2 separate regions of the Homo sapiens genome follow, and region 1 is linked to region 2. Evidence: fine-mapped expression QTL. Tissue or cell type: sigmoid colon. Region 2 holds a variant in brackets; the other region holds the start of a gene. All regions are shown on one strand. Distances are between the middles of the regions.

Region 1 (2,758 bases), 23 kb before region 2:
TGTGCAGACTCTGCCCTGAAAACAATCAGTTCCATTACTTTACTTTTGTAGTTTAGACTTGGGAACTGCTGACAAAACAGCTATGGGCAACACAGACGCAGTTTTGAAAACCCGACTCCCCTGCTGTCTAATACCTGCATCTGAGGGCAACACGGTGAGCGGGACATCTTTGGTTTCAATTTTTACAGAAGGCTCCAGTAGGGACTGCATTTTAGTAGGCACTGGTGTCAGGGGGACCTTGGTCAATCTTATCAGCTCTGAAGGCGGAGCTCCCTGAAACTGGATCCGGGCCCCAGGGGGGACCGTGTGGAGCGTCAAAGGGATCCTAAGGTCTTGCTGGTGCGGCCCAAAGGCACCGGACGTTGGGGCCAAGATGACCTCCGCGCTGCCATGAACCAGGCCATTGGACGCGGGCTCCGCGCCGAGCCTGCAGTCCTCGAGGAGTCTCTCGGGTTCCTCCGTTTTGATCACACCTTCTCGGATGGCTGCCGGGCTTTTGCCTGCCCCGCCTTGCATCGAGTCTCTCATGACCTCCTCCGCCTCCAGCTTGCCCTTCTCGTCCCCTCGGAAGTAGCCGAGGGCCGGCCCGGGGCCTTCCAACTTGACCACCCTGGAGGCTCTAGGACCGGTTTCGACGGCCCCTCGAGGCCCCACTGACTGATCCAGGCTGGGCCCCAGCTTCTGCTTCTTGGCCTTGACATGCAGCGCCAGGGGCTGCACCGGGTGCAACTCGGGCCTGGAGGTGGCGCCGTCTGACGCTGTCGGCGGCTGCAGGAGCCGCAGGTCGGGCCTGAACTGCAACAGCCGCGCCTGCGCGGACGAGGCAGCGGCTTCCTCGTTCTGGGCCTGAGGCTGTGGTAGCAGCAACACCTGCTCTGGCTTCACCTGCAGCAGCCGCCGCACCGCGGGCTGTAAGCCGGACGCCACTGCCTCCCCGCACGACGAGGCCAAGGTCGCACTGGCTGCCGCGCTCAGTGTGGGAGACGACGGAGGGGGCTCCATGGCTGCTGCCCAAAAGGAGGTGCCCTCGACCGGCAGCGGGGGCGGAGCGGGACGCAACGGGCGCGGCTGAGGCGGCGGCTCGGGTCTGGCTCTCTCCATGGGGGAGGGGGACGCCCCGGCCAGGATTGTGAGCTCAGCCGTTTGTTGGCGACCTTCCCCCTCCCCCTTTCGGTTAAGAGCCTTGCAAGGCCTTTGCTACCCAGAACCCTACGCGGTTCAAAACGCAGCTGTCTGTCTGGGCCTCACCCAATCACAACGACCGATACCCGTGGACGGCCAATCACAGGCGGGTTTTCCGGCTCTTCCTGGTCCCTACTCTCGCCTCGTGCTGAGTCCTCGAATCACCTGCCATGGTAGGAGCCGCCGCACTTGTTGCACATTTTCGTTCTGACTCTCTTGTGGAGTTCTCTTACAGCCGTTGTCTTTAGTCATCCCTCCCCCACCCGGAGCTGCGACAATGGCGTTGCCCAGGAAACGTTGCGCTTCCAGGCCGCTGACATCCAGGGAATGAAGTCTTGCGTCACAAGGGGAGCGACGGCCTTGTGCACGCGCTCTGTGCGGCCTGAGTAATCTGTCGGCCCTGAGTACCACCAGGGCTTTTGAATCTTTGCCAAGGGAGAATGGGGAAGATTTTGCAACTTATCAATAACCTATTAGCTAATGTTGCTGGGGAGGATCTTCGACTTTGTGTGATTATTGTGCTAAAGTTTCAATTAATCACCAGGCCCTGTGGCCCTACTTCCAAAATACTATACATCCCAAATTCATCCACTGTTTTGTGTCTCTACCTGCCATTATCCTGTTCCAGGCTCCCAGCATCTTTCACTGGGATACTGCCGTAACCCTGTAAATAGTCTCCCTGCTTGTCACCCTTGCCCCACTACACTCCAGCTGCCAGTGATCTTTCGAAAACGCAAATCTAAGGTTGTCACACTTTTCCTAAACTTTCCATGGCTCCCCACTGATAATGTAATGAAAGTCTAAAATTCTTAGCAAAGCCTTAAAAATCCCCCAGTGGCTTGGGATCTAACCTCCTACTACTGCTACTATTAGATTGGTGCAAAAGTAATTGTGGTTTTTGCCATTAAATAGTTATTGAGTCTTTGGGTTTCAGCCACATTGGCCCCATCATCATTCTCTTTCTACTGCAGGGTGTTTAAACATGCTCAGCATGCTACTCTTTCCTTTGTGTCTCCTTAATTCCTCCTGCACATTTTTCATATTGCAGCTCAACTGGGACTTCTTCAGAGAAGCTTTTACTGACTCTGAAAATCAGATAAAATCTTGGTCTACTTATACCTCTATCACTTGGTTTGCTTACCACAATTTGTAATTAGAATTTTCATGTGATGATTCCACTGCCTCTCCCACTTTAGACTATAAAGTCCTTGAAGGCAGAACAGTTTGTGTTTTGCCCATCACTGAATCCACAATGCAGACCATTGAGCCTGGCATATAGTACTCAATAAATACTTGTTGAATAAATAAATGAATAGCGACTGTGATAGGGTAATAATAAAATAGTAATAATCACTACCTGTGTTAAGGGCTTACTCTTATGCTAGACACTGTTCCAAATCCTTTCCATGTTTATGTTTCTCCTTTTAGTAGGATTGTGTTTATTTCCATTAAACATCACCAAGAAAAACAAAAAGAAATCCTGTATTAACATTTGCTGCATTTCTAAATGACATTCTGGCCAAAAACTATAGTTTATCTTGACGTAGATGATTTTTGCAATCAAGACAAGTTATCA
Region 2 (2,758 bases):
ATTTAAAGATATATGTTCATAAGACTACTTCGTGGTGTAACCAAATTATCAAAAAGTGAAAACTCAGTGCCTGTAAGTGTATCCACTTTTCACCATTTTCTCATTTTGACCAAATTGTTGTATTTTCACCTGGAGTACTTGGCTCCATTCTACCCCACCCCACCCCATCTTTCACCTCTCACCTTTCAGAGTCTCCTAAAACCCCTAGCCACCCCATACCTCCTTCACTTTTCTAAACTCCCCAAACTTTCTTCCAGAATTTCCCTGTTAACCAGCCTAACACCTGTCCAAGCTTTTCATTTGCATTTCTCCCTGCTCTGATTTATACTCCCCCAACCCCCCACCTCCCAGATCCCCTTGAAGCATATGCTCTAGAGCAAGTGCCCCCCAAGCTAAACACCTCCCAGATTCATCCTTCTGAATCCTACCCTACAACTTTACTCCTCTCCTCTAAGACTCCTCTCACCATTTCATCCTTAAGAAGGATCATCAAGATGACTGCTTTTGGCTGGGTGGGCGTGGTGGCACTTGCCTGTAATCCCAGCACTTTGGGAGGCTGAGGTGGGTGTATCTCTTGAGGTCAGGAGTTTGAACCCAGCCTGTCCAACATGGTGAAACCCCGTCTCTACTAAAAGTACAAAAATTAGCCAGGCATGGTGGCGAGTGCCTGTAGTGCCAGCTACTCAGGAGGCCGAGGCAGGAGAATTGCTTGAACTGGAGGTGGAGTTTGCAGTAAGCCAAGATTGCACCACCACACTCCAGCCTGGGAGACAGAGTGAAACTCCGCCTCAAAAAAACAAAAAACACAAAAAGGGTGACTGCTTCTGAGGATGGTTCTGAGTTCCTGATAACCCTTCTCTTAAGGACTGCACTAGGCCATTTTACATCCTCAGAATGGCTTTTCTTCTGGGTAACCATGAAATACCCCTTTAGCATACCTTTTCCACAACAAGAAACTGTGGTTACTCCCCTGTTCTTTTGAAAATTATGACAGAGCTGCACTTGTCCCAAGAAACCCGGGGAAGCCTCAGCCACTCCCTCAGGACCCCATCAAATGTGCTCTGGCCCAGGCCCCAACCGTCTGTAACCTGTGCCACCTTTCCCTCCCTGCTCCAGCTTAATGAATTCCAGTGAAGCAGCGATGAAAAAAACTTTACCCAAGAGCCATTTATCTC[G/A]GGTGATTATTCATGATAACCGCATCACACAACGAATCTATGAGATGGAGGTAAAGTAGCCACAAGCTTTTGCATTAGAGGGTGTTAGTGGCTTGACCCATATTCATTTCATTCTCCCTATATGCTGGGATATCATAGAGGTGATAGGGAGTCATCAAGGTGCTCTAAGGCAGGCCCCATTTTACAGAGGAGGCAATTGATACTCGGGGTTACTGACTTGCGCAAGGTGTCGCACCTGTTCCTGGGCTAAGGGAGCCAGAGAGAAAGACTCCATGTCTCTTGGGTCTTTTTTTCTGAAAGCACATTATCTCTCTATTTAGGGAATCCATGAATGGATTCTTATTTTCTCCCATACAAAGTCTTGGGTCCTAGGCCACACGCAGTGGCTCATACCTCTAATCCCAGCACTTTGGGAGGCTGAGGCAGGAGGATCACTTGAGGTCAGGAATTCGAGACCAGCCTGGCCAATATGGTGAAATCCTGTCTCTACTAAAAATACAAAAATTAGCCAGGTGTGGTGGCAGCCAGGTGTGTGGCAACAGAGCAAGACTCCATCTCAAAAAACAAACAAACAAAAAAACAGAAAACCAAAGTCTTGGGTCCTAGAGTTTGAATGGGCCTCAACACCATCTTGTCAATTTTTTCCTTTGGGGATTATCCCCATTTTCCAGATGAGAGCTGAGGCTCTTCTCCCACTTTTTGCTATGGACAGGTAGAGTTTCACCTGCTTACTCGAAATCCTGAGTGCTGTCACCCCACTGTTCCCATAGACCCTGATTGATGGATTCATTAAACCTGTCCTTAGGGCCTGCTTGGGACAGGTACTGTGTTGGGCGCTAGGAAGAGACAAGTGAACAAGATGGACTCCAGAAACACACTCATTCTTTCAAGCAGAGCAGGGTGCCCAGGGTTGAGCTGCTGCCACCTTCTTTTCTTTTTTGAGACAGAATTTCATTCCTGTTGTCCAGGCTGGAGTGCAGTGGCGCTATCTCAACTCACTGCAACCTCTACCTCCCGGGTTAAGCAATTCTCCTGCCTCACCCTCCCAAGTAGCTGGAATTACAGGCATGCACCACTACGCCCGTCTAATTTTTGTTTTATTAGTAGAGACGGGGTTTCACCATGTTGGCCAGGCTGGTCTCAAACTCCTGACCTCAGGTGATCCACCCACCTCAGACTCCCAAAGTGCTGGGATTACAGGAGTGAGCCACCACGCACAGCTGCTGCCTGCTTCTTGACTCTTTTGAGCTTCCTTCCATGTTCCAGGGTCAAGTCTGGATGGGCCCACAAAATTCTAACATTAAAAACAATTGGAGATCCTTAAGAGATGGTGCCAGATCCTCTTGAAGGTCACAAACACCAAAAGAAGAGTAGGGACCCGGGCATTTCTCTTTCTGCTACACTTCCATGGGTGTGGTGTAGTGGAAATAGATGGGCAAGCCAGCTTTGTGTGACCCTGTGTGAATTACACTTCCTCCAGACTCTGCTTTCTCATTTGTAAAATAGGATCTATTAAGATCCTCTCAGTTGCAGGTAACATAAACTGAACTTGAACTAGTTCGAGCAAGATAGAGAAGTTGGGT

Which allele goes with the higher level. Alleles are on the strand shown, and positions count from the first base shown. SD is a standard deviation of normalised expression in the study named.
With allele A in place of G in region 2, the expression in sigmoid colon of the gene that starts at base 1,461 in region 1 is higher (small effect, 0.35 SD a copy in GTEx).

Evidence for each region. PIP is the estimated chance that this variant, and not a neighbour inherited with it, causes the effect.
Region 1: it holds the start of SOX30, and the variant in region 2 is fine-mapped to the expression of SOX30 in sigmoid colon (GTEx, PIP above 0.99). The same link has a PIP of 0.9 or more in monocytes.

What each region holds. Positions count from the first base shown.
Region 1 is chr5:157,650,978-157,653,735 of GRCh38, forward strand. SOX30 (SRY-box transcription factor 30) reads right to left here and starts at 1,461. Exons shown (of 5, transcript NM_178424.2): 1 at 135-1,461. The coding sequence starts at 1,101. LOC105377675 (a long non-coding RNA gene) reads left to right here and starts at 829. Exons shown (of 3, transcript XR_941127.3): 1 at 829-1,355. RefSeq lists an enhancer at 1,104-1,398.
Region 2 is chr5:157,673,976-157,676,733 of GRCh38, forward strand. It overlaps C5orf52 (chromosome 5 open reading frame 52), which reads left to right. Exons shown (of 3, transcript NM_001145132.2): 2 at 1,117-1,225. Among named protein-coding and RNA genes, the nearest start is that of C5orf52, 3.8 kb to the left of the region's middle. The variant G/A (reference allele first, on the strand shown) is at 1,176.